4 separate regions of the Homo sapiens genome follow, and all the other regions are linked to region 1. Evidence: fine-mapped expression QTL. A gene starts in region 1. Each other region holds a variant in brackets. All regions are shown on one strand. Distances are between the middles of the regions. Region 1 holds the start of MGRN1 (mahogunin ring finger 1). Region 2 overlaps C16orf96 (chromosome 16 open reading frame 96). Region 3 has its middle 32 kb from the start of CREBBP. Region 4 overlaps MGRN1 (mahogunin ring finger 1).

Region 1 (8,099 bases):
AGCCAGGATGGTCTCGATCTCCTGACCTCGTGATCCGCCTGCCTCGGCCTCCCAAAGTGCTGGGATTACAGGCGTGAGCCACCGCACCCACCCACAATTCTTTTTTTTTTTTTTTTTTGAGACGGAGTCTCACTCTGACACCTAGGCTGGAGTGCAGTGGCGCAGTCTCGGCTCACTGCAACCTCCGCCTCCTGGGTTCACACCATTCTCCTGCCTCAGCTTCCTGAGTAGCTGGGACTACAGGTGCCCGCCACCACACCCAGCTAATTTTTTGTATTTTTGGTAGAGATGGGGTTTCACGGTGTTAGCCAGGATGGTCTTGATCTCCTGACCTTGTGATCCACCTGCCTCAGCCTCCCAAAGTGCTGGGATTACAGGCGTGAACCACCGCGCCCAGCCTTTTTTTTTGAGACGGAGTCTCGCTCTGTCACCCAGGCTGGAGTGCAGTGGCGCAATCTCGGCTCACTGCAGCCTCCACCTCTCAGCTTCAAGCAATTCAGCCTGCCTCAGCCTCCCGCGTAGCTGGGACTATAGACGCCTGCCATCACGCCCGGCTAAATTTTTTTGTATTTTTAGTAGAGACGGGGTTTCCCCGTGTTAGCCAGGATGGTCTCCATCTCCTGACCTTGTGATCCGCCCGCCTTGGCCTCCCAAAGTGATGGGATTATAGGCGTGAGCCACCGCGCCTGGCCAGACGACTGCACAATTCTATAATTTAACTAAAAATCATCAAATCATGTTTACAATGGATGAGTTGTGTGGTACATGAACTACATCTCAATAAAGCTATGAAGAGTAAAACAGATATAGTGAAAACAAAGCAAATATTAAATTCAAGCTGAGCGCTGCTGCAGAACATGCTGAAAGTTCCCTTAAGAAAAATGGACAGTGTTAGGTGTTAAAAATGCATATATTACCACCCAGTGACTCTTTCTCCTTGACATAATCAACAAAATTGACAGAGATGTGAAAAGAAAGCTTTCTCATCGGGTGATTGAATGGTCCATGGGGGCAACCCCTAAAATCATCTCAAATGTCTCCACGGTCCCCGGTCTGCCCTTGGGGAAACACACCAAAATGCTGCTGAGGCCCGGCCTGCCTCCCACCCTTGACCTGACGGAGTTCTCATTAAGGAGACAGGAGAGGCGGGGAGTCTAGGAAACCAGTGCGGCACAAAGGCAAGGACCAGAAGAGATGAACAAAGAGAAGAACAAGTATCTGCAAGGCCCCAGGGAAGGATGGAGAAGAGAAAGGGAAAAAGCACAGCTGGAGAGGACCTGTGGACTGGATGGGCGCAGAACACTGCTGGCACTGGCAACATGACCCAGGCAGCTAGCTGATGGGTTGCACCTGGGTGCCAGTGCCAACCAATAGTGGCTGACGCGAGTGTTCTGCGATGGATGCTCAGTGGGAGGGAGGGCCACGAGTGATTAGCAATGACATTTCAGCCACAGTGGGATCCCGAAGCGGGCTGTAAATGACATGTATGTTATTCTGTTCAGCCCAAGTGAAGAACGGACATCAAGTGAGCTCAGGTCCCAGGTGACAGGAAGTGCCACTCAACTTTTTGATATCTGTGTCATGCCACTGCTTACTATGATTATGGTCATTAGCTAGTCACTTATCTTCCTTTATGAGCAATTGTAGCAGCTACCATTTGGGGACTTCTGAGCCAGGTGTGGTTCTGAGGGCTGTATAAGCATCAGCCCGTTTTACAGATGAGGAAACTGGGACCCAGGGGGTTAAGCAACCTCGACCAAGGTCACTCAGCCAGAGGCAGGCTGGAAGAATATCAGAGATGAAAGAGGACAACAGCAAACTGCTCCATCTGATGTAGGGCCATCAGCCCTCGGAACCTCTAGGGAAACCCCAGGGTGGAACCACCCAAAGGCCAGGCTGACCCGCTGCTGGGCCTGGGATACAGCTGTGCTCTCCCCAGCAGGCAGGCAACAGTGCGTTCTGCCTAGCTCTGAGTCCATCCCCTTCAGAGTGCCCCCAAACTGTGCTGGTTCCCCTCACTTCATCCCAGTGGCCCCAGGCCCTCACCTAGTCACACCTTACAAAACCTGGGCAGAGCAGTTTTTCAAACCTGAGTGGACGTAAAACTCACATGGGGAATGGGTTGAAAATGCAGGTTCCCAGGCCCCAAGGGGTCCCAGGCAGGCCCTGGCATGTCTAGCAGTCCTCCCCCACTTGTGGACCTGGCCCACACTCAGAGAAATCTGGCCTGTGGGTGTCCGGAGACACCCAGGAGACTGAGACATCAGATCAGATGAGACGCCAGGATCTGAGGACCCAATCTAGATGTCCCCATGATGCCCAAGTTCTCTCTCCTCTTCCTTCTCTCCTTTCCACCACAAAGAACCCCACGAGGAGATGGAGGGTGAGACTTGGAGCTAGATGCTCCCAGTCAACACATAACTCATCAATAGAGGCAGAAAGAGAGCTGGGAACAAAGCTACGTGGGAGCCCCACAGCTGGTCCCGGTCCCAACTATGCTTCCATCCAGCTGAGATCTTGGCAGTCACTTCCTCCTTGGTGTCTTACGTCCCTCAGCCATAACACAGAGGCCCGAGTATCGGCTGGGTCCTCTCAGCAAGGACCCTGGCCCCTCCCGATCAACTATAATCGTCTCCTTGGGCCCAGCCCCACTCCTCCAACCCACACACCAAGAGCCTCCGTCCTGATGGGAGGGAAATTGCCCAAACCACTGGCTCGGCCTTCACACCAAGCCACTAAAGAAAGCGAAAGCCGGCCCCCGCGGTGAGGTCAATCTGATGACAATGAGAGTTTTCTAGGCAGAAGCGATGCGCCGGGACCCGCGCTCAGCACCCCGCCCCGCCCTCGGGGTTTCCCCCAGGAGCTCCCCCCTGTTGCAAGGACGGAGCTGAGGTGCCCGGGGCGAAGGGACTGCCCCAAGGTCACCCAAGCCGGGCAGTAGCAGCGCCAGGTACGGCTCGGGCAGGTTCCTCCGGGGCCCCCAGCCACGCCTAGGGATCGGGGCCGTGGGGCCGCGCGAAGGCTCGGGGTAGCAACGAGGCCCGGAGGGGGCCGAGCAGGGCGCCCCGCCCCGAGTCCCCGCCCCCGCGCCCGCCGGGTCCGCGTTCCAGCGCGTGCCTAGCAGTCCGCGCCTGGGGCCGGGCGCTCACCGGACTTCGGAGGGTAGCGATAGGCCGAGTTCGCCTGGATGTCGATGTCCTCCACCCCCGCGATGCGGCGGCTGAGAATGGAGCCCATGGTGCGCGGCGCTGCCGGGCAGAGGGGCCAGGGCCGGAACGGGAGCGGCGACAGCGGCGGGGTCCTCACGCGGACATGGCCCGGACCAGGCCGCACGGACGCTCGTCCACGGCCGCGGAGGCGCCTCGAGCCCCCACCCCCGGCTCGGCCCGGGGACCGACGCCACGGCGGCCCTCCGCCTCCCGGTCCCGGGGCACGTCGGGAAATGGAGTCCTCTCGCCGCCGAAGGCGCCGGGAAGCAGCGCGGGAAGCCCGTCTGGGAACTATCTTTCCCAGGATGCTCCGTTCCCAGGCCCTCTGACGGGTTGACAAGCACTCCGGGACAAACCAAATGGACCTAAATTCAGAGGGAAGGAACCAACCAACCACAGGGCAAATGGTCCTTCCCTCTGCGTTCCAAGCGCTGCACTAACATATTAACTCTTTGGTCATTTCCTCATCTGTTCGCTTACAGACTCTCCTGGAGCCCCAGCGCCTTCCACTTGCCCCCTCTGAAATAGCTCCCTGAGTCGCTGTGGTTCTCCCCACTCCCCTGAGTTTGTCTCCCGCCCCGACCGGCAGAGGGCGTAGCTGCACCTGCCACCCGGAGCCCACTTGCAGGGTGTGCACGGAAGAAGTGAAGCACCTGCTTTGGCCTTGGCCAGAATTTGAGGACTACCATTTGGGGACTTCTGAACCAGGTGTGGTTCTGAGAGCTGTATAGGCATCAGCCCGTTTTACAGATGAGGAAGCTGGGATCCAGGGGGTTAAGCAACCTCCGGCCCCCTGACAAGGCTGAGGCCCGGTGCAGTGGCTCACCTGTAATCCCGATACTTTGGCCCCACGTCTGGACCAATTAGTTTAAAGACATAATTTCACAGCCTCCACGGAAGGCAGTAGACTCTCCCACATTTTACACACAGGGAAACTGAGGCACAGAGGAGAGAGAGCCGCATGAAATGGCGCTGCGGGCAAGATTGCAAGAATCGCTTTCAGAATGAAAACCTCGCAGTGTGCAAGGTGTTCCCTGGCTTTTGAGTCACACACAGCTCTGCAAATAGATCGCTTTTTACCTACTTTTCAGTTGAGGAACTTGGATTCTGAGCAGAGTGATTTCCCAAGTCAAGCCTGCTGTACCAAGAAAGCAGCTAGGGAGGGCAAGGCAGACTGAGTCTCCAATGGTCAATTCACCACAGTCCATGTGGAAATGCTTCTTATACCCTTCCAGAGACCACAGTCCAGGATCCAGTCTTCCTCTTTTTTTTTAAATTGTTCTGTCGCGCAGTCTGGAGAGAAGTGGCACAATCTCAGCTCACTACAGCCTTTGCCTCCCGTGTTCAAGCGATTCTCGTGCCTCAGCCTCCCCAGTAGCTGGGATTACAGGCATGCACCATCACACCCAGCCAATTTTTGCATTTTTAGTAGAGACAGGGTTTCACCATGTTAGCCAGGCTGGTCTTGAACTCCCGTCCTCAAGTGATCCGCCTGCCTTGGCCTCCCAAAGTGTTGGGATTAGAGATGAGCCACTGCACCTGGCCTCAGACTTCCTCTTGTCAGGGGAACTTGGGAAGCCAAATGAGTACGGCAGCCAAGAGACTTGTGTGATTATGATGCAGGTCCAGGTCTTGGAGGAGCCTGATTAAATCTCCCTGCCCCACAACCAAGATCCACACTTACTGAGCATTATGTGCCAGGCATCATGCTGAGGGCTCTGCACATATCCTCTCATATAATTCTTTGATGTTGGCCGGGCGCAGTGGCTCACACCTGTAATCCTAACACTTTGGGAGGCCGAGGCAGGCAGATAGCCTGCACCCAGGAGTTCCAGAACAGACTGGGCAACATGTCATGACCCTGTCTCTACCAAAAATGTAAAAATTAGCCAGGTGTGATGGCACGCCCCTGTAGTCACAGCTACTCTGGAGGTGGAGGCAGGAGCATAGCTTGAGCCTGGGAGGTCGAGGTTGCAGTGAGCCATGATCATGCCACTGCACTCCAGCCTGGGTGATAGAGTGAGACCCTATCTCTAAAAAGGATAAAAATTTTAAAAAATAAAATATTAAAAAAACAGGCCAGGCACTGTGGCTCACGCCTGTAATCCCAGCACTTTGGGAGGCCGAGGCAGGCATATCACTTGAGGTCAAGGGTTTAAGACTAGCCTTGCCAATATGGTGAAACCCTGTCTCTACCAAAAATACAAAAAATTAGTTGAGCGTGGTGGTGCGCGCCTGTAATCCCAGCTACTGGGGAGGCTGAGGCAGGAGAATCGCTTGAACCTGGGAGGTGGAGGTTACAGTGAGCCCAGATTGCGCCACTGCACTCCAGTGGGAGTGAGAGAGCGAGACTCTGTTTCCAAAAATAATAATAATTAAAAAACAATTATCTGGCCAGGCACAATGGTTCACGCCTGGAATCCCAGGACTTTGTGAGGCCGAGGTGGGCGGATCACCCAAGGTCAGTTCAAGACCAGCCTGGCCAACATGGCAAAACCCCCATCTCTACTAAAAACATAAAAATTAGCTGGGTGTGGTGGCATGTGCCTGTAATCCCAGCTACTCGGGAAGCTGAGGCAGGAGAATCGCTTGAACCTGGGAGGTGGAGGTTACAGTGAGCCAAGATTGCCCCACTGCACTCCAGTGTGGGTGACAGAGCGAGACTCTGTTTCCAAAAATAATAATAATTAAAAAACAATTATCTGGCCGGGTGCAATGGTTCACACCTGGAATCCCAGCACTTTGGGAGGCCGAGGTGGGCGGATCATTCAAGGTCAGGAGTTGGAGACTAGCCTGGCCAACATGGCAAAAACCCGTCTCTACTAAAAACAAAAATTAGCTGGGTGTGGTGGCACGTGCCTGTAATCCCAGCTACTCGGGAGGCTGAGATGGGAGAATTGCTCGAACCTGGGAGGCGGAGGTTGCAGTGAGCGGAGATCGCGCCACTGCACTCCAGCCTAGGCGACAGAGCAAGACTCTGTCACAGAAAAACAATCTGATGTAGATTCTATTTCTATTACCAATTTACAAAACAGTAAAGTGAGGCTCAGAAAAATGAAGTACCCTAATGAGGTTGCACAGTAGGTGGGTGGCACAGCTGGAATTGAGCCAGGCCACTGCTCTTACCTGGGCACGTCCCTGCCTCCACAGAGGCATGCTCCAGAGTGCCAGATTGCCAGGCTCTTGCCCCCAGATGGATGGGCCTGAAGCCCCCCACCCATTGTGATCTCTCTTCATTTTATATTTCTTTCCATTGAATCACGTAACTCACGTACATGTACATGTATTTGTGTATCAACGCTGCATTCAACTGACTGCCCTCCTCATTTGCGGGGAGGAAGGGAGAGTCCTGAGCATCAGCTGTTCCCACTGAAAAACAACACTAAGAGCATATCCTCCCTATGGAGCCTGTGCCAGAGCAGTCATTTCCACCAGGTGGATGTTTCATTAACTCTTCTTCTCAACAGAGCTTTGGACTCAAGGTGTCCTCAAAGCCCTTTCAGCAGTATTTTTCTGTGCTTACCCACACCCAGATGGAAGACAGGCCCTTCCCGATTTGGTCCAAGTTCCATTATCAACATCTGAGTGGATTCATTTATTTTTATTTATTTATTTATTTATTTTATTTTTTTTGAGATGGAGTTTCGCTCTGTCGCCCAGGCTGGAGGACAATGGTGCAATCTCGGCTCACTGCAACCTCCGCCTCCCGGGTTCAAGCGATTCTCCTGCCTCAGCCTCCGTAGTAGCTGGGATTACAGGCATGTGCTACCACGCCCGGCTAATTTTGTATTTTTAGTAGAGACGGGGTTTCTCCATGTTGGTCAGGCTGGTCTCGAACTCCTGACCTCAGGTGATCTGTCCGCCTCGGCCTCCCAAAGTGCTGGGATTACAGGCGTGAGCCACCGTGCCCGGCCTGGATTCATTTATTTATTTACGTTTGGAGACACAGTCTCACTCTGTCACCCAGCCTGGAGTGCAGTGGCATGATCATGTGGGATCTCGGCTCGCTTTAACTTCCGCCTCCCAGGTTCAAGCGGTTCTCCTTCCTCAGCCTCCCGAGTAGCTGGGATTACAGGCACCCACAACTAATTTTTGTATTTTCAGTAGAGACAGGGTTTCACCACGTTGGCCAGGCTGGTCTTTAACTCCTGACCTCAGGCAATCCCCCCACCTTGGCCTCCCAAAGTGCTGGGATTACAGGCGTGTGCCGTCATGCCTGGCCAATTCATTGATTTATTCAACAAATATTTATCCTGCAGCTACTATGTGACAGGTGATGAACCAGGCAACAGGCATCAAATGGTAGGACAAGCTAGACATGGAGGCTGCAGGCAGGTGAGGAAATAGACGCTAGAAAGGTTAACAAGTATATAATTCCAGAATGTGGTGGGTGCTCTGCAGAAAACGTTGAGATGCAATTAATTGACACTATTGGCAGGGGAGTCAGGGAAGGGGTTTTTTTGAGGAGGTGACAGCTAAGCCAGGACTTGATTTATTTTTTGTTGCTGTTGTTGTTGCTGTTGTTTGAGACGCAGCCTCACTCTGTTGCCCGAGGTGGAGTGCAGTGGAGCGATCTCAGCTCACTGCAACCTCCGCCCCCTGGGTTCAAGCAATTCTCCTGCCTCAGCCTCCCGAGTAGCTGGGACTACAGGCGCGTGCCAGCACACCCAGCGAATTTTTGTATTTTTAGTAGAGATGGGGTTTCACCATGTTGGCCAGGCTGGTCTTGAACTCCTGACCTCAGGTAATCTACCCACCTCGGCCTCCCAAAGTGCTGGGATTATAGGCGTGAGCCACCGCGGCCGGTTGCTAAACCAGGACTTGAAATACAATTAATAGCCAGCCAGGCAAAGTGTGAGGGATTAGGCTGCTCCAGGTTCTAGGTAGGGG
Region 2 (8,099 bases), 47 kb after region 1:
GTGCTGGGATTATAGGCGTGAACCACCGCGCCCAGTCCCAGCTAAATTTTTTATTTGTGTAGAGATGGGGTCTCCCTGTGTTACCCTGGCTTGTCTCAAACTCTTTGTCTTAAGTGATCCTCCCACCTCAGATTCCCAAAGCGCTGGGATTACATATGTGAGCCACCGCACCCAGCCTAAATATTTCTTTTTATTATTATTTTTTTATTTTTATCACCCAGCCCAAAATGTCAGTAAATATTTCTACCTCTTGGCTCAGGGAAATGTTAAGAATGTAACAGTTGGCACAAGAAGTTCTCTTAATCATTCACTGAGTCATTCAGCAAATGTGATGGAGCCTTCACTACCCCTGCCCTTCCAGGGGCAGGTGACGCAGTGGTCAAAAAGACGAACATTGTCCCGGCCCTTCTGTTTATATGGGTGGGGGGGGGTGGTGGGATTCGTTTGCTTTTCATTGAAGTGTAATTTACACACAGTAAAATGCCAGTAAAGCCCCACTGGTTCCCAGCCTCAAGTGCATCCCCACCTCATGCAGAACCTTCGGGAAGGGCCAGAAGGTCTAGGTGAGGAATTCTCCCTTTGCCAGCCCTTCTCCAGCCTACCCAGTCCTCCTAACCTTGAACTCATCCATGCGAATCTGCAGGTTCTCCACCGCCTTGTCCAAAGTGATGTAGCGATCCTTCATCATCTCTATTTGGTTGCCCCAAATTCTCTCAAGTTCTTCCTCCTAAAAGGGGGAGACACAGACACCCCAGGCCTCTGCTTCTGAAGTTACCATGGCCGGGAAGGGGCCTGAGGGAGGGTTGAGGCCAAGAAGAATGTACCAGACCAGGCTGGGCGTGGTGGCTCATGCCTGTAATCCCAGCACTTTGGGAGGCCAAGATGGGTAGATCAACTGAGGTCAGGAGCTCGAGACCAGCCTGCCCAACACGGCGAAACCAGTCTCTACAAAAAATACAAAAATTAGCCAGGTGTGGTGGCGGGCCCCTGTAATCCCAGCTACTAGGGAGGCTGAGGCAGGAGAATTGCTTGAACCCAGGAGGCAGAGGTTGCAGCGAGCTGAGGTCACGCCACTGCACTCCAGCCTGGATGACAGAGCAAGATTCCGTCTCAAAAAAAAAAAAAAATAAGGTATCAGACCAGGGTGCCTTCCACCTGCCATTTTTTTTTTTTTTTTTTTTTTTTTTTGAGACAGGGCCTTGCTCTGTCACCCAGGCTAGAGTGCAGCGGCGTGATCTTGGCTCATTGCAGCCTCCACCTCCCAGGCTCAAGTGATCCTCCCACCTCAGCCTCCCGAGTAGTTGGGACTGTAGGGACAAACCACCACACCTGGATAATTTTTGTATTTTTTTGCAGAGAAGGGATCTCACTATGTTGCCCAGGCTGGTCTTGAACTCCTGAGCTCAAGTGATCTGCCTGCCTCAGCCTTGTAAAGCGTTGGGATTACAGGTATGAGCCACCGCACCGGCTTCACCTGCCCTCTGAACAGCCACCTGAGACACAGAACCGTGTAGCCCCACACCTGCTGGGCCCCCCCACCGCACCAGTGAATCAGCTTTGAGAGGCAGCAGCTGCCTTCGCAGCCAGCTCGCTTTCCCCCAGCCTGTTTTGCTGCAGAACACAGCTGCACCTGGGAGGGGGGCAGAGTCAAGGAGTCTTCAGCCAGCTCACCTCAAGCCATCACTGCCTCAAAAGCCCTTCGCCGGAGACACTAACCTTGAGCCTAGATTTCTGGAGGCTGCCAATCTTTTTCTGCAATATGTCCACTGTTGTCCCGAGGCTGGAAGGACCTCCCATATTGGCTGAAAGCAGAGGACAGGGTGGCTGCTGAGGGCTCGGATGGAGGAAGATGTTTCTGTTGGGCTCTAGCTGCTTCTCTTATGGAGCATCTCAGGCAGCACTGCCCAGTGGAAATGCACTGGGCCTCGCAGCTTGTGGTACCTTTTTATTTATTTCTTCATTATTTTTTAATTAATTTATTTTTTGAGATGGAATCTCGCTCTGTCACCAGGCTGGAGTGCAGTGGCGCGATCTCGGCTCACTACAACTTCCGCCTCCTGGGTTTAAGCAATTCTCCTGCCTCAGCCTCCCGAGTACCTGGGATTACAGGCACACGCCACCACGCCCAGCTAATTTTTGTATTTTTAGTAGAGACAGGGTTTCACCATGTTGGCCAGGTTGGTCTCGATCTCTTGACCTCGTGATCCGCCTTCCTCAGCCTCCCAAAGTGCTGGGAGTACAGGCATGAGCTACCGCACCCGGCCTATTAGTTTTTAAATTAATTAAAAAAAATTTTTTTTATCAGGTGCAGTGGCTCACGCCTGTACTCCCAACACTGTGGGAGGCCGAGGCAGGTGGATCACCTGGGATCAGGAGTTTGAGACCAGCCTGGCCAAAATGGAAAAACCCCATCTCTACTAAAAATACGAAAATCAGCCAGGCTTGGTGGCACATGCCTCTAGTCCCAGCTACTTGGAAGGCTGAGGCAGGAGAATCTCTCGAACCCAGGAGGCGGAGGCTGCAGTGAGCTGTGATCACGCCATTGCACTCCAACCGGCGACAAAAGTGAAACTCCATCTCAAAAAATAATAACAATAATTAAAAAAATTTTTTTTTAAATTTTGTTTGTATGGAGACAAGGTCTCACTCTGTTGCCCAGGCTGGAGTGCAGTGGCACGATCATAACCCAGTGCAGTCTTGAACTGCTAGGCTCAAGCAATCTTCCCACCTCAGCCTCCTGAGTAGTTGGGACTACAGGCCTGCGCCACCACTCAGGCTTTTTTTTTTGTTTTGAGGAGGAGTCTCGCTATCGCCCAGGCGGGAGTGGCACAATCTCTGCTCACTGCAACCTCTGCCTCCCGGGTTCAAAGTGTTTCTCCTGTCTCAGCCTCCGAGGTAGCTGGGATTACAGGCGCGCACTATCAAGCCTGGCTAACTTTTGTATTTTTAGTCGAGACGGAGTTTCGCTATGTTGGCCAGGCTGGTCTCGAACTCCTGACTTCAAGTGATCCACCTGCCTCATCCTCCCAAGGGACTGGGATTACAGGCGTGAGCCACCGCACACGGCCAATGTTTAAAATTTTTTTTTTTTGAGACGGAGTCTAGCTCTGTCGCCCAGGCTGGAATGCAGTGGCACGATCTCGGCTCACTGCAAGCTTCGCCTCCTGGGTTCACGCCATTCTCCTGCCTCAGCCTCCTGAGTAGCTGGGACTACAGGCGCCCGCCACCATGCCCAGCTAATTTTTTTGTATTTTTAGTAGAGACGGGGTTTCACCGTGTCAGCCAGGATGGTCTCCGTATCTGCCTGCCTTGGCCTCCCAAAGTGCTAGGATTATAGGCGTGAGCCACCGCACACAGCTAGTGTTTAAAAATTTTTTTAGAGATGAGGTCTTGATGTTACCCAGGGTGGTCTCGAACTTCCAGTTCAAGCAGTCTTCCTGCCTTGGCCTCCCAAAGTGCTAAGATTACAGGCATGAGTCACCATGCTTAGCCAATACAATACTGTTTTATGGGCTATCACAAAGGAGTTTTTTTT[G/T]TTGTTGTTGTTTTTGAGACAGAGTTTCGTTCTTGTTGCCCAGGCTGGAGCGCAATGGCATGATCTTGGCTCACCGCAACCTCTGCCTCCTGGGTTCAAGCGATTCTCCTGCCACAGCCTCCCGAGTAGCTGGGATTACAGGCATACACCACCACGCCCAGCAAATTTTGTATTTTTAGTAGAGACGGGGTTTCTCCATGTTGGTCAGGCTCATCTTGAACTTGCGGTCTCAGGTGATCCGCCCACCTCAGCCTCCCAAAGTGCTGGGATTACAGGTGGGAGCCACCACGCCTGGCCACAAGAGTTTTTGAGAGTAATTTTGGCATGCCATTTTCCTCGTGCCAACTTTAGACCCTAACAGCCTCCCTGCCCTAAGATAAGACCTCATTGTACATTCAACAGAAAAGAATAGACTCGTTAAGAGCCAAATGCTTAAGCCAAAGGAAAGAATGGCTAATGGTGGAATGCAGATTTTGTTGGTGGAGCCCAGTGAAGGACAGGACACACTTCTCAAAGGCTGCAGGGAGAGCCCCACTCCCTTGTGCCCTTCCCAGGGCCAGACCAGGCCTACCTAGATAACTCAAGCGCTGGTTCAGGTTACAGGACAGCTGGGCAAATTCTTCCTTCAGAGAGTCGTGTTTGACAGGTATCTGGGCTATGTGGCTCATGGAATACTTGACAGCCCTCTTCTTGTCTTCAGGGCTCATGGCCTGCTTGGTAGCCACCATGGCCTGGGACAGGGCTGGATCGGGACCGATGCTGGCAGCAGAGTAGGAGGGAGAGAGGATTTCGTAGATTTCGGAATCATCGCCCAAGATCTGGGATTCTGTGGCTCCCCGGGAAGGCCCTGCACCCAGGACATCTGCAAAGACCCCTAGGGGCCCAGCTGCAGCCGTGTCTGTTGCAATGGCGGCCATTTTGGTGGCTGGGGCATCCTTGACAAACTTGGCAGCAACTTTGGCTGCCTGGGCAGCGGAGGATGTGGCAGCGGCGTAGGCTGCGGCGGCAGCGGCGGCGATGGCAGCGGTGGTTTTCAGCCGGTGAAGGGCAGACTGGGGAGCCTTAGGCTGTGCTTCCTTGGGGGCCCCATCCTTGCCAACTCTATCCTTGGGGTCCCCATCTTTGCCACCTCTATCTTTGGGGACATCATCCTTGTGAGCTCTATCCTTGGGGTCCACATCCTTGCCACCTCTATCTTTGGGGACATCATCCTTGTGAGCTCTATCCTTGGGGTCCACATCCTTGCCACCTCTATCTTTGGGGACCCCATCCTTGCGAGTTCTATCCTTGGGGGCCCCATCCTTGCGGGCCCTCTCCCGAAGGCCCCTTAGGCTGGGGACATCATTTTCCTCCCCCTTTACTTGGACAGCTGCGAGCTGGAGGGCTTCTCCCTGGCGAGACTGATATGGCTGGAGTGGTCGAGGCCACAATGAGCCAAACTCAGTGGCTGGTGGTGGGGCCCTGGAGGGTTGGGGCTGAGTTGGCCGCAGGACACCTAAGTCCCACAGAGGCCAAGAGCCCACCCTGGGCCAGCCTTGGGGAAGAGGCCAGCGTCTTGGGAGTGCAGGCCAGTCTCCCAGTGGTGGAGGCTGGGCACCTGGGGCAGGCACAGGTCCAAGCACAGGCCAAGGTGCTGGCAAGGACCCAGGTGTCACACTGGGCCCTGGGACAGGCCCCAGGGCAGGCACAGGCTCCAGCTCCAGCCCCAGCTCCAGTCCTGGCACAGGTTCAGTCCCAGGTGCAGGCCCAGGTGCAAATTCAGTTGTGCACCCAGGTGCAGACTCAGGCGTGAGGGCCGGAGGCTGCGCTGGCTCCTGGGCTCTGCTGAGTGAAACTGCTTGGGCAGATGAGCCCTCCGGGAGGAGCTCTGGGACCTCATAATGCCAGACAGTCTGCAGTAGCTGGGGGTTTTGGACGGGCTCGGAGACCTGGATGGCACGAGTAGCTTCAAGGTACTTGGTGGTCTGGGCCAGGGCAGCCTCTGGGAGCTGCTCTACAGACTGCCACAGGTCCAGTGGTGATGAACCAATTTCCTGCAGAAGAGGGGGCAGAGGGGCTCTGCTGGCTTCCAGCCCCGCCTCCCACTCTCAGTCAGCCACCCGCCTGCTCCCCAGCTTCCTGCTAACCTCCCCTTCCTTCCTCACTCACTGAGGTGAACATGGCATCATGAAGGCCACTCCAGAGCACCATGTCCTCGGTTTTGGGGATGGTTTTAAACTTATTCTGGAGAGAAGCCTGCAAGGTGGGGGTAGAAAATGAGGGCTGTGAGCCTGGAGGGGGCAGTGTCCCCCACACCTGCAAAGAAACCTTTCCAGGCTGTGTTCTCCTCCTTGCACCTCCCTACCCTCAGCACCCAGGACCCGGGAGGTTGGGGGGTCCCAGGGGGAGTGGGGGAAGACAGGGATGGTGGCCCTCACCACTTCCCGCTGCAGTGCAACCATCTTCCAGTTCTGTATTTTGAAGTCTTCAGCAAAGATGTCCATTCTTTCTGGGTGTACCTGTCAAAGGAACTGAGTCTGTGGACTGGGGGTCCAGGTTCTGTCCCACCCCTGCCTTTTCCCGTGGCTCTAGGTGACTAAGAGCTTGAGAAGGAAGAACGGGTTCCAAATCCAGTGTTTCCCAAGGAGTGGGAAAGGGTTCCATGGGCAAACAAGTTTGGGAAATGCTGGGCTTGAAAGCATGTCAGGCCGGGCACAGTGTCTCATGCCTGTAACCCCAGCACTTTGAGAGGTCAAGGTGGGTGGATAACTTGAGGTCAGGAGTTCGACAGCAGCCTGGCCAACATGGTGAAACACCGTCTCTACTAAAAATACAAAAATTAGCTGGGCCTGATGGCATGCGCCTGTAATCCCAGCTATCAGGAAGCTGAGGCAGGAGAATCACTTGAATCCAGGAGGCAGAGGTTGCAGTGAGCTGAGATGGCGCCACTGCACTCCAGCCTGGGCAACAGAGTGAGACTTTGTCTCAAAAATAAGTAAATAAATAAATAAATAAAAAACATTTCAACAGGTTTCTGTACGGCAGGACTTCCCAGAGCCTTGAATGAGCAAAAGCACATTAAGAATCTCCAAGAGGGCCGGGCACAGTGGCTCATGCCTGTAATCCCAGCACTTTGGGATGCTGAGGCGGGTGGATCATGAGTTCAGGAGTTCGGGACCAGCCTGACCAATGTGGTGAAGCCCCCACCTCCACTAAAAACACAAAAATTAGCTAGGCGTGGTGGCTTGCACCTGTAATCCCAGCTACTCAGGAGGCTGAGGCAGGAAAATCACTTGAACCCGGGAGGCAGAGGTTGCAGTGAGCTGAGATCGTGCCACTGCACTCCAGCCTGGGTGACAGAGAGAGACTCCGTCTCAAAAAGAATACAAAACAAAACAACAACAACAAAAACACCTCCAAGAGACAGGCCAATAAGGCATTGTTTTTCTTTTCTTTTTTCTTTTTTTTTTTTTTTTGAGACAGAGTCTCACTCTGTTGCCCAGGCTGGAGTGCAGTGGTGTGATCTCGGCTCACTGCAAGCTCCACTTCCCAGGTTCACACCATTCTCCTGCCTCAGCCTCCTGAGTAACTGGGACTACAGGTACCTGCCACCACATCCAGCTAATTTTTTGTATTTTTAGTAGAGATGGGGTTTCACCGTGTTAGCGAGGATGGTCTCGATCTCCTGACCTTGTGATCTGCCCACCTCAGCCTCCCAAAATGCTGAGATTACAGGCGTGAACCACCATGCCGCCCCACCGACCCCACCTTTTTTTTTTTTTTTTTTTTGAGACGGAGTCTTGCTCTGTCACCCAGGCTGGAGTGCAGTGGCGCAATCTTGGCTCACTACAATCTCCACCTCCTGGGTTCAAGTGATTCTCGTGCCTCAGCCTCCTGAGTAGCTGGGGTTACGGGTGCCTGCAACCACACCCAGCTAATTTTTGTATTTTTAGTGGAGACGGGGGTTTTACCATGTTGGCCAGGCTGGTCTCGAACTCCTGACCTCAGGTGATCCGCCTGCTTTGGCTTCCCAAAGTGCTGGGATTACAGGCGTGAGACACCAGGCCCCGCCGAGAAGGCATGGTTTCTCCAACAGCTTTGTCTAAGGGGCCCTTTTGAGTAGCTCATGATGCAGCTTTTAACAGCGTTCTTTCTGCTTAGATGGGAGCCATCCAGCCCATGCCTAAAGCTCCCACAGTTGCCATGATGATCAAATACAGGCCCTGATCTGTGAAGCCGGGATGATACAGAAAATTACACTATTTGGGGGAAGTTGTTAAACCTGGGGGTGTGGAGAGCTGGCTTCAGACCCCAGCTGTGACTCATCAGTTGTGACGGGGACAGCTGCCTCATGTCTCGGGGACTCCATGTCCTTCCATGCATGGTAGGGTGTTAGAAAATACTTGGCTGATGGTTTTTGGCTACAGAAGTACAGAAGGAGCTTGTATGTATGCCTGCACTATTATGATTATTCCACTTTCCATGTGGACAGAGCTTTCCAGAAGGGGAAGAGGTTTTCTTTTTGCTAGGTTGGTGGAATATAAGTCTGCTGTTGCCAAGACTTGAGGAGCACCTGCCTGAGAAT
Region 3 (8,099 bases), 710 kb after region 1:
CGCCTTCTTGTGGCTGCTGGCTGGAGGGTTTGGTCTTCACCAGTGGCCAACACAGTGCTGTTTTAATGACATAGCAGCTGGTTTTCCCCAGAGGAGGGATCTGAGAGCAAGGGAGGGAAAAAGTAGGAACCCACAGGCCTTTTATGACCAGTCCCCAAGGTCACACAGTGTCACCCCTGCCTTATCATTTAGAAGTGATCCACTAATTCCATCCCACATTCAACGGCAGGGGATGAGGCTCCACCTCTTAAAGGGAGGAATATCAAAGAGTTTGTTGTGGATATATTTTAAACCACAGCAGGCAGCGGCATTCACATCCCAGTTTAAGAGTCTTTAATTAACTTGCCCCAGATCACACACAAGGAAGTGGTGCGAATGAGATTAGAATCCAGCTCCCGGCCAGGTGTAGTGGCTCATGCCTGTCATCTCAGCACTTTGGGAGGCTGAGGCAGGAGGATCACTCGAGTCCAAGCGTTTGAAACCATCCTGGGTAACATAGTTAGACCTTGTCTCTACCAAAAATAAAAAAAATGAGACAGGAAGATCACTTGATACCAGGAGGTCAAGGCTGCAATGAGCCATGATTGTGCTACTGCACTCCTGCCTAGGTGATCTGGGTGATGGGAGTAAGACTCTGTCTCAAAAAAAAAAAAAAAAAAAAAAAAAGAACCAAGCTCCCCAGAGCCCATGTCCTTTCTCTGGTGCATGCTGCCCTCATGGGAAGAAGGCAGTCATAACCCGGCCAGCTCTCACCCTGACCTTGCTACAGCCCCTGAGAAGATGTCACTGAAGGCTGTGTCTATGTGTGCACTCAAACAAATTGGCTGCTACGGCTTCACCAGGCTGCATCTGCTCTCTCTGGACTACTGGTGGCTACTATCATCACCAAAGCAGTGTCTGTGCCCTGTTTTATAGGGTAAATCAGCTCATCTTTACTTATGGCGTATATGCACCCCCAGGTTCCTCCTGCTCCCTGGCTACGTATGCCACAGGGTCTGAAGAGCCAGAGGGGTGTGCGGTGTTGGTATGTGATAGGCCATGTAACTAACTATTCCAGGTCAGCTCACTGGGCCTGGCTCCTCCCTTCCACGGGTGAGTGATTTCCTGGAAGCTCCTTGGCCTGTGCACAAGCTTCTGGTGAGGCCCGACCCACCAGCCCAACATACATTTCCAAAGCATCTGAGTCCATCCCAGGTCCCAGCCTGGGCCCAAAACTAGGGTTTCCCCCATCAGGAAACAGGGAGAAGGAGCCCAGGAAGTTTGAGCCAGGGCCACCTGTCATGCTTAAGGCACAAACATGGGTCCAGATGCCACCGAACGGTACATTGCCTGTGCCAGACTGGCTCAAGGCCCAGAGGGGCCAACTGCCAGGTGGATCTCCATGTGCCCAGCAGAGAGGGGCTGGGGAAGGCAGAACCCGAGGTCTCCTCTCTCCTCCTCTCCCTGCCCTGCGTCCATCACCAGGACGTGCTTCGTGGTGGAAGAGCCAGAGGGGCGTGCAGTGTTGGTATGTGACAGAACTTGTGTGATCACTCCCTGCTATGCAATTAAGTGCAGATTCCCCACGCTGTGGGGAGTGTGCCAGCCCCGCCCTCTGTGCGGTGTGGGACTCAATGCTGTCACTGTGAGATCGGATGGGCCTTGGTGTCCTGCTGTCCTTGGATATGTTCCTGAGCTTAGGGTGATCCATTCGTAAAAGGGGAATAGGGGCATCTACTTCCCAGAGCGGTTGTGAGGAGTCAACAAGATCATGCGTAGAGAGAGCTTGACTCAGCCCTCCCGGTAGGGTAAGCACTCAGTGGGTGTCTGCTGTTGGAGGATGGTCCAACTATTGTCACCATTGTCACCATTCAGAGGGGTGGCCACGTTTTGCACATTAATTGTCATGGTGTGGCCCTAGGACTACTTCTACAGGGCTGGACTTCTCGCCATCAGTCCAGGTGTGCTGTGACCCCATCAAGATCCATTCTTACTCTATGTGGGCCTTCAATTTGCACCATACAAGTCAAACTCCCGAGAGAGGCTGGACTGAGAGGGAAGGATGAGGTCAGGGCCCTCAAGAGGGCAGGACAGGAAGCTTTGTGGATCAGGAGAGAGTGGGGCCCATTCACATCAAATGCGTTTGTCCCAGAACTGTTTCTACCCTCCAAGGAGCGTCTTGCAATTGAAGTAGGTAAACTCCGCTGTTGTTGTTGCCCGTGGGAGGTCATATACGTCCTGGTTTGCATGGGGGCTATTTTGGAGGGTTCAGAGTGGTAAAGATGAACAGAAGCACCCATCGAAGGTGATGGCCAGACGCCTGCAGGAACGGGTGGAGGAGGCAGAGAGAAGTGGAAGAGGGACAGAGGACTAAAGGAAAGAAGAGGCCACCAGGTAGCAGGAGAGCACCAAGGAGGCGCGAGTCCTGGATCTTGCATCCGTCTCTGTGTCGTGGGAGAGTCCAACTCCCACTGCAGCTCACCCCAGCAAGGCAGCTTGACAAAGCTCTGCTGTCTCCTGATCCCGGTGACAAACAACCCGTCTGCTTGTTTTAGGGCTGCCAAGGCCTGTTGTACAACGCAATGGGGTAAACCCTGCAGACATCAGCCCTCCTTATTCATCTGCTATTTGGCGCTAAGCATTCAGTATTTATCTTGGTCAGGCACAGTGGGTCACGCCTGTCATCCCAGCACTTTGGAAAGAAGAGGTGGGAGGATTGCTTGAGCCTGTAAGTTCGAGACCATCCTGGGCAACTTAGTGCCCAGTCTCTATGAGAAAAAGTTAGAACTGCCCGGGCGTGGTGGTCCACATGTATAGTCACAGCTACTCAGGAAGCTAAGGCAGGAGGATTGCTTGAGCCCAGGGATTCAAGGCTGCAGTGAGCTATGGTCTTGCCACTGTACCCCAGGCTGGATGACCGAGAGAAACTCTGTCTCTAAAAAAAATCAAATAAATAAATAAAAATCTTGGCTGGGCACAGTGGCTCATGCCTGTAATCCCAGGAATTTGGGAGGCTAAGGCGGGTGGATCACCTGAGGTCTGGAGTTCGAGATCACCCTGGCCAACATAGCAAAACCCTGTCTCTACTAAAAATACAAAAATTAGCTGGGCATGGCGGCACGCGCCTGTAATCCCAGCTACTCGGGAGGATGAGGCAGGAGAATCGCTTGAATCCAGGAGGCGGAGGTTGCAGTGAGCTGGGATCATGCCACTGTACTCCAGTCTTGGAGACAAGAGCAAAACTCCGTCTCAAAAAAAAAAAAAAAAAAAAAAAAGACTGGGTGCGGTGGCTCATGCCTGTAATCCCAGTACTTTGGGAGGCCGAGGCAGGCAGATCACGAGGTCAGGAGATCGAGATCATCCTGGCTAACATGGTGAAACCCCGTCTCTACTAAAAATACAAAACATTAGCTGGGCATGGTGGCGGGCACCTGTAGTCCCAGCTACCCAGGAGGCTGAGGCAGGAGAATGGCATGAACCTGGGAGGCGGAGCTTGCAGTGAGCTGAGATCATGCCGCTGCACTCCAGCCTGGGCGACAGAGTGAGACTCCATCTCAAAAAAAAAAAAAAAAAAAAAAAAAAAAAAAAAATTCTTACTGCTGCAATTGACTAGTCTTACTTTTTTTTTTTTTTTTAAATATTATTGCAGGCCAGGCACAGTGGCTCACGCCTGTAATCCAAGCACTTTGGGAGAGGCTGAGGCAGGTGAATCACTTGAGGCCAGATGTTCAAGACCAGCCTGACCAACATGGCAAAACCACATCTCTACTTAAAAAAAAAAAAAAGCACAAAAATTATCTGGGCATGGTGGTGCATGTCTGTAGTCCCAGCTACTCAGGAGGCTGAGGCCCAAGAATCGCGTGAGCCTGAAAGGTAGAGGTTGCAGTGAGCTGAGATTGCGCCACTGCACTCCAGCCTGGGTGACAGAACGAGACTCTGTCTCAAAAAAAAAAAAAAAATTATCCCAAAAAGAGAACTGTTAGACAGTCCACGCATCTGTGCATGGATGCACAAAATCATGCATGCTGCAGTTTAAGGGATTCTAAGGGTCATGAGTCTTGTGGACCAAACATGATTTCATCATCATTTAGAGCCCACGGTAGACAGGACGCTGCAGTTTCAGCTGGGGCTGGGCTTGGGCAAGTCATTAAACATCCATGTGCCTCAGAGTTAGTAGAAGCCATACATTCACAGTGAGTTGGTGACCAAGACACAGTTCATGGATGCCGGTCCCCACCTGGGCCCCCTGCAGTCTACCCTATGGCCACCCAGCCCAGGACACTCAAAGGCAGCCTCATCCCTGCTCTCATGGCTTCTTCATGTACCACCGAGTGGCCCTAAGGAAGGGAAAGGATTCACACGCAGGGCCCCCATTATGCACTAGGCACTGAGCTCATTGCTTTCCATGATCTGGTAACCACCATTCGGTGGGCAGCGCCTACGCTCCTTAGATGCTCACGACTTCTTAGCAAGAGGAAATCCAGGTTCTGAGAACCCAGCTTGCCCAGAGTTGCCTGCTAGTGGTGGCAAAGCCTGTAGATGAGCCACG[T/C]GGCCCCTCCCGGGTCGAAAGCCCAGTTTGCTGTGCTGCATCCTCTCTCCCCATCACCTCATCTGAGCCTCATGACAACTGGCAGGAGGTGACGAGAGCGGCCTCGCTCTACAGGCAATGAGATGCAGGCTCCAGGCTGGGACTCAGCCTCATTCCCAGGTTCTTCCAAGGCCCCCCGTTGCCCATGGACATCACAGAGGGGAGAGGGGGGCATGGGGCAAAGAGAGAAAGCGCCACACAAATGGAATCACAGCCTCATCACTTCCACGAACAAAGGTCTTCTGGGGAACTTCCATGAGTAGGCACACATGGCCACGTGCCGAAACCCGCCTCTCTCTCAGCAGCCACCTGCATCTTCCTTGAAGATGAATGTCTTTCTCAGTTGCTGCCTTTTGATTTGATTTGGTTTGACTTTTGTTTTTTGAGACGGAATCTTGCTCTGTCACATGTGTGATCTTGGCTCACTGTAACCTCCCCCTCCTGGGTTCAAGTGATTCTCCTGCTTCAGCCTCCCAAGTAGTTGGGATTATAGGCACTCAGCACCACGTCCAGCTAAGTTTTGTATTTTTGGAGAGATGGGGTTTCACCATGTTGGCCAGGCTGGTCTTGAACTCCTGACCTGAGGTGATCTGCCCACCTCCACCTCCCAAAGTGCTGGGATTACAGGCATGAGCCGCCGCACCCAGCCTGATTTGACTTGAGAGACAGAGTCTTGATCTGTTGCCGAGGCTTGAGTGCAGTGATGCAATCACAGCTCACTGCAGCCTCGACCTCCCGAGCTCAAGTGATCCTCCAACTTCAGCCTCCCAAGTAGCTGGGACTACAAGTGTGAGCCATCACATCCAGCTAAATGTTTTTTTTTTTTTTTTTTTTGAGACAGAGTCTTGCTCTGTCACCCAGGCTGGAGTGCAGTGGCACAATCTCATCTCGCTGCAACCTCTGCCTCCCAGGCTCAAGTGATTCTTGTGCCTCAGCCTCCTGGATAGCTGGACCACAGGCACATGCCACCATGCCCACCTAATTTTTGTATTTTTAGTAGAAATGGAGTTTCACCATGTCGGCTGGACTGGTCTCAAACTCCTGGCCTCAAGTGATCTGCCCAACTCCGCCTCCCAAAGGGCTGGGATTACAGGTGTGAGCCACTGAGTCCGGCAGAGCTTAGCATTTGAATTGGAGCAGACTCAATATAGAAGATCACCCTCACCAATGCAGGTGGGCAGGTACAATCCTGAATAGCACAAAAAGGCTGAGGAGGGGTGAATTCTTTCGGCTCCAACTGGGACATCCTTCTTTTCCTGCTCTCTGACATTGGCGCTTCTGGTTCTCAGGCCTTTGGACTCAGACAAGGACTTAACCCATGGGCCCCGCAATTCCCAGTCATTTGAGTTTGGATTGGAACCACACCTCCAGCGTGCAGATGGAAAATCTTGGGACTTCTCTGCCTCCGTAACCATGTGAGCCAGTTCCTCATACTCAACCTCTTTCTGTGTATCTATACACATCCCATTGGCTCTGTTTCTCTGGAGAATACTGACTCATACATGTTGTCTCCCAGTTGATATCTCAGGGCCCTACATTCCTGGGAAGGTACCTGTGACTGGCTTGGCCCACACAGAAGCCCTTAAAACTTCAACCTTGACAGCTTCCCTGGTGGAAAATAGTTACTCTTTATCCTCGGTAGAAAGTTTCAAAAGACCGCCAGATGTGGTAGCTCACAACTGTAATCCCAGTGCTTTGGGAGGTCAAGGCTGGAGGATCACTTGAGCCCAGGAGTTTGAGACCAGCCTGGGCATCACAGTGAGACCCCATCTCTACAGGGTTTTTTTGTTTGTTTGTTTGTTTGTTTGTTTGTTTTTAATTAGCCAGATGTGGTGGTGCATGCCTCTAGTCCCAGCCACTAGGAGGCTGATGTGGGAGGATTGCTTGAGCCTAGAAGGTTGAAGCTTCAGTGAGCCGTGATTGAGCCACTACAATCCAGCCTGAGCAAGAGAGCAAGACTCTGTCTTAAAAAAAGAAAAGTTTCAAAAGACATCCAACCAAGCCATCAGGCCTCCTTTCTCTCCTAAGCTGGCCTGCTCACCTGCTCACCCTAGAGGGGCAGGGCCGAGCTGGAAACTCCTTTGGCTGCAGCACTGGGGGTGCTGGTGTGGGGGTGGGGTCTGCGTCTTCCCTGCACACTGCATGTTGCTCTCAGCACCATCAAGAGAGGACAGTTCACGGCGGTGGCAGATGGGACTATTCATGTTGCCACCCTTTCTGAGGAACTCCTGGAGGCCCAGAGACAAATGCAACCAAGACCCCGCCCTTCCTGGAGCTCACCGGTTGCTCTTAGTGTTGCCATAGAAACAGAAGCCTGGACTGCGGCCGAGGGCTCAGTTGCGGCCTCCCCTAAAAGATACGTCCACCTGGAACCTCCAGGATGCGATCCTATTGGAGTAAGGATCTTTGCAGATGTGATTAAGCTGAGGCTCTCGCGATGAGATCATCCTGGATTACAGTGGGCCCTATGACAAGTCCTTAGAAGAGAAGGACAGATACAGAGACTCCGAGGAGAAGGCCATGTGAAGACGGAGGCAGACTGGAGAGATGCAGCCACAAGCCCAGGAAGGCCTGGAGCTGGGAGAGGCAGGACAGACCCTCCTCTAGAGCCTCTGCAGGCGGCGTGGCCTGCTCACACCTTGATTTTGGACCTCAGCCCTCCAGAACTGTATAAGAATAAATTTCTGTGGATTAAGCCACCCAGTTTGTGGTCATTTGTTTTGGCAGCTGCAAAAAAGAATACAAGGCGGCCAGGCACAGTGGCTCACACCTATAATCCCAGCAATTTGGAAGGCTGGGGTGGGTGGATCACCTGAGGTCAGGAGTTCAAAACCAGCCTGGCCAACATGGTGAAACCCTGTCTCTGCTAAAAATACAAAAACTAGCCAGGTGTAGTGGCACGCTCCTCAGCAGGCTGAGGCAGGAGAATCACCTGAACCCGGGAGGCAGAGGTTACTGTGAACCGAGATGGTACCCCTGCACTCTAGCCTGGGCAACAGAGCAAGACTATGTCTCAGAAAAAAAAAAAAAAGAAAGAAAAGAAAAGAAAAGAAAAAAAGAATACAAGGGCGGCTACTGCCAAAGACAGGGCTCCCTAGGACGAACACTCTGAGATGGAGAGGAGCATGCAGAGATTACTCAGGTGCCCTTGTCAGCTCGCGTGGGGAAGTGCAGAAGCTGGACATGCCCGGGAGACGCTGGGCTGTGCCACAGGCCGGAGCACGGCCTCACCCAACCTCCACTTCAGACCTGGGTTCAGGGAACAGGCTGAGATTCTCCCCCTGCCTCAGCCACCTCCAAGTAGAACCCAGAAAGGGGATGTGAACTTGACCTTGACCTTGAATGAGGCAACTCTCCTCAGTCACGGGCAATTCGCAGGACATTCCAGCAGTCGGAGCCCAAGTCATTCAGTCCAGAAGGGAGGGCGGAGGGTCATCACACTGTCCGTACAGCCCCGATTACTTTTATGCCAACAGTGGGCAGAGGGATCCCCTGCTTCGGGGGAAGAGGGCTGCCTGGCCCCGATCCAAGT
Region 4 (8,099 bases), 61 kb before region 1:
AGGCAGAGCCAGCGGAGGCCACACGTGGGCAGCCCCAGCCCCAGCCGCTCAGCCCACAGGACCCTGGGGAACGGGGGCTCTGAACTAGGGATGGAAAGCTGCTGTCCTTCATCTTGTACCAGTTACAAATATATCAACTGTAGAAAAGGGAGACTCAGAAGGGACAGTTCACTGTGCTCTTTGATCAAGAGTCACCACGGCCCCTCGGAGCCTGGTGGCCACAGGGGGCATGCAGACAGGAGGCCGGCTCACAACGGGGTCCGGAGCAGCCCCTCGGCAAAGTCTGGGGAGCCGAGGGCTCCATGCTGCCAGCTCGGCCAGGCTCTCAGAGTGGGGTCAGCTCGGCGGCGCTGGGATCGGGGCTGGGGCCACCAAGTGGAGGCCAGGTGGGGCTGGTGGTGGCGAGGCCGTGGGCCGTCTCCATGGAGGTGGGCCGTCCTGCAGGTGGGAGCAGAGGGAGGAGGGTCACACTCGGATGCCTGGTGCCACGCCACCCGCTCCTACCGATCTGGAGCCCCAGAGGGGCTGGGCCATCCAGCACCCCCACTCCCGCCGCCTGTGGCCACAACAGCATTCACTCAGATGTGAGCACACCAAGGGCCCGGGGACTCCCTAACTGTGCCAAATACGCTGTGTCCCTCTTGGGACAGACGATCCCAGATCCCCGGACACCCACAGCAGATCTGCAGCCCCGAGTCAGAGCGCGACACGGCACCGCGGTGGATGCCCTCTGGGCCTCCTGCCCTTGCCCTGGTTCCGGTTTCCTGGGATGTGGCCAGCCACTGTCCTGCCAAGGTTCTTACGGCTGGGTTAGGGTGGAACTCGGTCAACCCAGGGTGCAGGGGTGGGGAGCGGCCCTGGGTGAGAACAAGCCCGTGCTCAGAGTAGCCCCCGGATGGCTACTGCAAGGCAAAGAGAGGAGCCTCCCACAGAGCCCCAATGCCCAGACTGTGGCCTGCACGACGCCGCCGGGCGCTGTCCCCAGATGGGTCTGGCGTCCCTGGGGCTTGGGCAATGGTGCTGGTGCAGAGCCTGGGACGGGGCCAGCATGGCCTCAGGGCTGCCTGACACCCAGCCACCAGCCCTGACACATGGCTCCCAGCAGACACGGCCCAGGCCCCACTCTCCGGTGAAGGGCGTCTATTTTCTTCGGGGGCCGCGGCGAGAGCAGGTTTCCGAGGCTGTGAGCCCTGTTCTAGATCACACCTGCACTCCCCAGCTCCGGAAGCTTGACCTGAATCGTGACATTCGCACGGCACCTTCCACCGATGCGCAGGCCGGGGCCGTCTGAAAGGTGCTGACTGTTTCAATCTAGGGGTATAATGGCTCAGGACAGGGGTCAACAGAGGGACTCGCTGGGCTCAAGAAGACAGAGGTTCATGGGAATGCAGAGCGCAGTCAAAAGAAGCGAAGTTCTCCCTGACCCGGCTCAAGTCCACCCAAGGGGAAAGGGCCTCTTAGAGCCTGCACCCCCGGCCAGGCACCTCCCAGCAGGCTGCATGGGCCTCGGCAGACCAGAGCTGCACGCAGCTTGTGTGCCAAGACCCTCTGGGAAGGCAGAGGGTCCCCAATCCGTCTGCCTACATTTTGGTGGCACTCCTGGAGCTGCCTTCTCTCTCTCCCCCGTGTGTGTGTGTGTGTGTGTGTGTGTGTGTATTTTTTTTTTCTTGAGACAGGGTCTCAGGCTGGAGTGGGTGGGTGGGTGTGTGTGTATTTTTTTTTATTGAGACAGCGTCTCAGGCTGGAGTGGGCCTTGACCTCCCCAGCTCCGGCAATCCTCCCACCTCAGCACCCCTGAGTAGCTGGGACCACAGGCACAAGCTACCACGCCCAAGCCAATTTTTTATTTTTCATAGAGAGGGGGTCTATGTTTTCTACACTGATCTTGAATTCCTGGGCTCAAGTGATCTATCCCCTCGGTCTCCCAAAGTACCGGGCTTATAGGTGCGAACCACTGCCTGGACAGAGCCGCCTTCTGTAAAACACTCACCTGGGCCACCCTGGTAGAGGGCGCCTCTTGGGGGGGATGGGGGATGCCAACCTCACAGGGCCTCCTATCTTTTAGTGCTGGTGTTCCAGAAGGTTCCAGTACTGGGAGGGACAGGTGAGTCGGCAGCAGTGGGCTCATGGCACAAAGGCAGCCCACGAGGGACTGTGTGCCAGGCCCATGGTGATGCCAGGCCCACGGTGGCCATGCTGACAAGGGAAGGAGGGAGCGGGGGAGCAGGTGGCTGTGTGAGCGGACGCCCTCAGGACAGGACGCAAGATACTCTCCCCTGGGCACCAGAGGGCCCCTCGAGGACGGACTCCCTCCAAGAGACAGGGACTGAGCTTGGGAAGACGTGATCCAGGGGCTCTCCCAATCGGGGCGCATTCTTTCCCCATGAATTGTTAAAGCCACGACCGGAACACGGGAGTGGACCTGCTGAGCGTCCTAACGTGTCTGCTGCAGGACCGATGCGAACTCATGGTGGGACCATCCGGAACAAGGCCAGGCCCAGGCCTCTCCCCTTGGGACGCTCACCCCATGTCTCCCTGGGGTTCCCTCCACGGTGCTGCCCTCATCCCTCAAGCTCCTGCCTCCCGCAGTGGACAGTGGCTCTGGCGCACCTGGGCTGTGTCTGTCTCCCTGCCTGGGCTGGGACTGTTCCAGGGCCCCTCAAGGCTGGAAGAAGAGCCTGACCGGCCGCCTAGTCCAGATGGAGAGACCTCTGGCCCCGAAAGTCAGGACCCCCCAGGAGGCCACTTTCTGGGGGAAGGTGCAGCAGCCACTGGAGAGCTCTGGATTCGGAATCCAGGGCCCCTGGGAAGATGCGGATGCGGACGAAGACCCAAAAACCAGAAGGAACCCCCGCCAGAGAGCAGGGGAGGGCTCCTCTCTCCAAGGACGCGCGTCAGAGCCCCCGAAGCGCGTCTGGGAGGTCACGTACCGGCTTACTCGTCTATACCAACAGAGCAGGAGTCGGGCCCCAGGGCTGCGCGGAGAGGGGGAGAGACAGACGGAAGCTCGGTTAGCAAGCGCGCAGCAGCCAGCACAGCCACAGCAAGGGCACCAGCTTGGGGACACGGTCGAGGCCGTCTAGAAACAAACACTCTGCTGCAACCACAGAGAACCACAAGGAGAACCACAGCTGGGAGGCAGAGCGCAGCCAGAATTCAACGCGGAGGAGCGCACTGGCCCTGCCCCTCCCTCCCATACCTCCCGCTGCCGCAGCCTAGGGAAGGGCGCATGAAGGACCTAACGGGCGCAGTCCACCTCTGGTTTCAGGAGTGAAGGCCCTGGGTGGGGGGCTGAGGCTAGACAGGACCGAGCTCAGGGCCAAGTCCAAGACACCAGGGCCCCCAGTGTTCACCATCTCATGGGCCCTCCCATCTACAGGGACAGCAGGGTTCAGTGATGCCGCCCACCCCGCCAGGCAGCGGCTGCACCCCTATGAGAAACCAAAGGCTCTGGCGTGTGTTCATGCCTTACGCACAGACACGGATAGACAGTCAAGGGCTCTGTGATGTGAAAAAGTCAGTGGAACAGAGGGGCCACCACATGGATTTAAAAACACACAGAAACCTGTGCTGACAAGGCTGACAGCCAC[G/A]GAGATGGCGCCAAACAGCCCCCAAAGGCACATGTGCTCTCCGTGGCTCAGAACTGAGGCCGTGCAGGCTGACCTGCTGGCATTCAGCAGCAGCCAACTCCAAGAGCGGGGCCCAGGGCCCAGGAGTTCACCTCAGGCTGCCCCGATGTAGACTCGGCCTCTCCTCTACCGCCTCCACAGATGACGACTGCCTGCCCCCGTCTGTGGGCCTGAAGAAGGCCCGAGACCCTCCCCTGTGGGTGGGGCATGAGACTCGGAGTCCTGGCCTCCTCTGTGTGGGCCTCCTCTGTAGCTGTCCCAATCCTTCCCAGGCCTGGCCACAGAGGGGAGGCGCAGCCTCTGAGATGCTCCCCCACAGGGCCACCCTGCAGGATCAGATATCATGTTCGTGGCTCCCAGAAGCTGAGGTCCTTCTGGCCTCTTCCCCGATCACCCCCCAAGTTTTTAATCAGAATGAAATATTTGAGATCCTCTGAAAGACCTTACTCGAATTCTGTGTCACTTTAAGGTAAGCTGGTCCTAAACACACCTTCTGCTGTGAGTTGTTCGGGGCAGGCCGCTGTGGTCATCAGGGCACCAGAGGCAGTGCCTGCTCCTGCACCTGCGACCTGTCACGCCCAGCCCATGAGCACAGGCCACTGCTCAGCCAGAGTCCGGGGGCACAAGAGCCCCTTTCCAACTAAAGCACGTCACAACCACCCAATGTCAGGCCCAGGTCACCAGGTGACTCAGGAGGATTGAGCAATGGTGGGCCCTGGGGCCAGGAAGCGGGTGAAGCCTGGCAGCCGCGAGGGAAGAGCCACACTCCCTAAGCAGTGGCTCTGGGGTCATGTCTGAAAGCACCGTGGCTGTTTATCGCAGTTCCAGAGCCGCAGACAGCCTCGTGGCAGGTGCTGAGACACTAGTCTGAGAGCCCCCATTCCCTCCCGGTCTTTAGAGCTTAGGATTCGAAACTGAGGATCTTATCCCAGCAGAGCAGAGCACGAAGGTGCTTGGCTGATGGGGTCTGGGGCCCGAGCCTCCGGGAAAGGTGAGAAGAGCAACCCTCTGTCCCAGCCTTGCTGCCTTGCTGTTCCCCGCTGGCGCCTGGCGCCCCCGCCGTCCTCTGTGCCTGGCCTGGGATGTGCTGCTGCATCAGGTGGCCTCTGTCAGGCCCGGGGCAGGGTGACCCAGAAGACACTGCCCCTGCGCTCTGTGGCCCAGGGCCCCCGCTACCCAGCACAGCGTGTGGTACCTGCTCCTGCTCTGTCTGCAGCTCTCAGGCACTGCCAGGAGCGCACGTGGCACCCAGCATGGGGCCTGTGGGCCCACGATAGGACCAGGAGTGGGGGAACATGTGGTGATCCCAGTGGGGCCGGATCTGCCCTCCTGGCGTGAGCAGCAGGCAGAGGGAAAAGGACCCCATCCTCTCACAGGCAGCCTCTCTCGCGTCTCTCACCTCCTGTGGCCAATGTGGCCCCAGGGAGGGAAGGGGCTTTGGTGCAGGTTCCGCTCCCAAGAGCCAGGCCCTGCCTGAGGCTGCTTTGTGGCCATGGCCCTGGCCCGCATCCTGCTTCACGGTCAATAGCAGGGGCATGGCTGAGAGCCAGGGAGAGAACCAGGCTCCAATGGACAGCCTCTGCTGCTATGCACCGACCATCAGAGCAGGGCCCCCTCCCTGGGGACTAAGACAGGCACCCAGCCCCTCACCCCCAGACCCCCAGCCCCTTACCTGGCAGGTAGATGTCAGCAGGTGGGCCTCGGCCACAGTGCTCGGGGCTGCTGTCCTGCAGGACATTCTCAATGGAAGCTGCTCGGGTCCCTGCAGGCAGAGGGTGAGGTTAGGGACCTACAGGCAGGGGCCAGGTCCCGGCAGGTCCCTCTGGGCAGGAGGCCGTCTCTCTTACCCAAGGGCTCTGTAGCCACTGTGGGGACCCCAGGCTTGTGCTCCAGCAGGACTCCACCGTGACCCCACCTGCTCTCCAGGGACCCCAAAGCTGGGTGTTTCCCTTCTATTTCCCTCCTTCCCATCCCCCAGCATGGGGCTTTTTTTTCCCCTTTTTTACACTGTGTCCTGGATGTTCAGAGCATAGGGCTTTTTTTTTTTTGGTCATAGAAACATTACACGCTCATGTTTCAAAACCAGGACTGAATGCTGGCAGGTGTTCCCCATCCCAGGCAGACAGCCCTGCAGGGTCAACAGCGCAGCCTGACCCAGTCACCCGTTCAGTCCCTCCCAGCCGGGATCCCAGTGCCGCCGAGGGGGGCCTCTTGGCCGAGGGTTCCTGGGGCAGAAGAGGTGCTGGCCCAACACCACCTGGAGCCCTAAGGCCCCAGTAAGCCAGGGCTGCCTGGTCCCTGCATGCGGTTTGTGCCCATGGAAGGAGGCGCTCACCTTGCTGTGGTGACGACGACTCATCAACCTCTTCTGTTATGAAACTCTAGGAAACAAAGGGGAAAGTAGCCTAGAGCTCAGAGAGCCGCGGCCACCGCTCCAGGACAAGCCGCCATCAGGCACGGCCCTCCCGGGACCGCACAGCCGCTCCACCAGGGGGTGCTGCCTCCACAGACCGAGGCTAAGGAGCCGCGCAGCTCAGCAAGAGCCAACAAGCACGGGGGCGCCCAGGCGGGCAGTGGGATGGGGTCTGATTCCAGCGACAGAAGCTGGAGGAGGGCTGGCCCGGGCGGGTGCGCAAAGCTTCCCCGGGGGGGCCTCACCTCAGGGGAGCTGCTTTCCCGCAGGGCCAGCTCTGCGCCACCCAGTGGGGGAGGGGCGTCCACGTCCTCGGAGAGCTTCTCCTCATCCTCTTCGTGGATGGGGGAAGACGGGGACCGTAGGGTGCTGGGGACAGAGGAGAGGGTGGGCAGGGGTGAGAGGATAACGACAAGGAAGGCTAACCCTGCCAAAGCCATGCAGGGCACCTGGGGGCCCCTGCACACGCCTGCCAGGACCCACGCAAGGACACTCCCTGGAGAAGGGCATCACCAGCCACCGGGACCAACCCAAACGGCCAACAGGCAACAGCGGCCACCACAGACCCGCCCGACAGAGGGGCTCCCGACACACTGGCACGGGCCTAGCCTTCCTTTTCTTTCTAGAAGGAGAAGAGAAACCGCTGGTGGTTCCTGGGGAGGAGAAGCAGCAGGAGACAGAGGCCCCCGTTTCTCTGAGCTTTGGCGCTGCCTCCTCGTGGGCATGGAGGGTGCCCAGGGCGGGCCTGCAGAACCCGCGCCTTCCTGACACTCTTCTACGAGAACCGACAGGCCTGAGGCACAGAGTCCCCCTGGCAGCCGCCGCTCTATACACCGCAAGGCTCCAGGGGAACCACGAATGACCCGTGGCCAACCCCAGGAGCCAGGCCCTCCGAAGGCTGTCGTATGAGTGATGGATGATGCACTCATCGCCTGGAGAGGGACCGTGCCCCGTGGCTCGTCACGGGCGAACGGCAAGAGCAGTGAGTGTGCCTGGGTCACTGTCAGGTCCTGAGTTTCGGCTGCCCTGGCTGGTCACCGGCAGAGTGGGCCTACGTGGCCAGCCCCCCAATGAAGTCTGGGAACCCAGAGGCTCAAAGGGGCTCCCCTCAGCAGAGACACAGCACCGACCCCTGCAGTTTCCTGCTCGAGAGCACGTATGCGCCTGCACGCCGGTGTGGCCCTGGTCGGGGGATCAAAGCCTCCAGCTGCCCGGACGCTCTTCCTGCCTCGTCTGCTGCGTTCTTTGCCGTAATAAACTTTACCCATGAGTCTAACCTGATACGGGGTCTCCGAGTCCTTCTGGGGAATCGCCACACAGAACACATCACAAACTGATTTGAAACCACAAAGACACCCGCTCCGCACGCGCGCCACCACACACCCTGCCATGCACCTGGCCTGGCTGCTGCTCACCTGTCGGGGGCCTTGCTCTGCGGCCTGCCCTTCTGGCGGCTGCTGTCCAGGATGTGGTCGATAGCCGCGAGGGGACAGCTGGCCTGGGACAGGCCGTCCGAGATGCCTGAATAGGTGATTTCTTCATAAAGAGGGGCCGAGGGGATGGCCGGGGAGACAGCCCGGAGGCCGTTGAGCGCCTCGAGCAGCGAGATGGGCTCGTAGCCAGGTGGGACGCTGTCAGAGTTCTGTAGGGACAGGGTGCGTGAGGGGGCTCATGCCCAGGGACCACCTGCTCCCCAGACGCTCCTCCTGATGACCTCCTGTCCACTCTGTTCTTTGGGGGATTGAGACTCCCCCACCCTCAGAGGGTGGCCAAGAGCTCCCTGGCAGCACCGATGCCCTCCCTGCCTCAGCCATCAGCTCCAGCACGGGGCTGGATGCCCAAATGCCCACGCTGGTGCCTGGGATGACGGGCACGAGGGCATCTGCCAAGAACCGCCCCAGCCCTGGCCTCAACCAGCCCCTCCCTGGCTTTCAGTCCCGCCTGGCCCCAGGTGGAGAGTGAAGGGTTAGTGACAGACAGGAGCTGGGAGCGGGGGCAGAGCAAAGCCATGCCAGAGGCGAGAGACACGGTCAGGGGCGTCCTGGACCAGGGAGAGC

The links. PIP is the estimated chance that this variant, and not a neighbour inherited with it, causes the effect.
Region 2: its variant is fine-mapped to the expression of MGRN1 in whole blood (GTEx, PIP 0.93).
Region 3: its variant is fine-mapped to the expression of MGRN1 in kidney cortex (GTEx, PIP above 0.99).
Region 4: its variant is fine-mapped to the expression of MGRN1 in whole blood (TOPMed, PIP above 0.99).

Annotation. Positions count from the first base shown.
Region 1 is chr16:4,620,099-4,628,197 of GRCh38, reverse strand. MGRN1 (mahogunin ring finger 1) reads right to left here and starts at 3,372. Exons shown (of 17, transcript NM_015246.4): 1 at 3,150-3,372. The coding sequence starts at 3,237. RefSeq lists enhancers at 1,524-2,052, 2,583-3,112, 3,296-3,590, 3,113-3,643, 3,601-3,710 and silencers at 2,881-3,110, 3,351-3,530.
Region 2 is chr16:4,572,643-4,580,741 of GRCh38, reverse strand. C16orf96 (chromosome 16 open reading frame 96) reads right to left here. Exons shown (of 16, transcript NM_001145011.2): 3 at 5,953-6,033; 4 at 5,684-5,770; 5 at 4,107-5,568; 6 at 1,717-1,802; 7 at 617-727. Among named protein-coding and RNA genes, the nearest start is that of C16orf96, 20 kb to the right of the region's middle. The variant G/T (reference allele first, on the strand shown) is at 3,536.
Region 3 is chr16:3,909,049-3,917,147 of GRCh38, reverse strand. No RefSeq gene overlaps it. Among named protein-coding and RNA genes, the nearest start is that of CREBBP, 32 kb to the right of the region's middle. The variant T/C (reference allele first, on the strand shown) is at 4,529.
Region 4 is chr16:4,681,135-4,689,233 of GRCh38, reverse strand. It overlaps MGRN1 (mahogunin ring finger 1), which reads right to left. Exons shown (of 17, transcript NM_015246.4): 13 at 7,458-7,684; 14 at 6,288-6,411; 15 at 5,965-6,010; 16 at 5,302-5,391; 17 at 1-438. The coding sequence ends at 326. Among named protein-coding and RNA genes, the nearest start is that of NUDT16L1, 8.4 kb to the left of the region's middle. RefSeq lists an enhancer at 5,954-6,454. The variant G/A (reference allele first, on the strand shown) is at 3,591.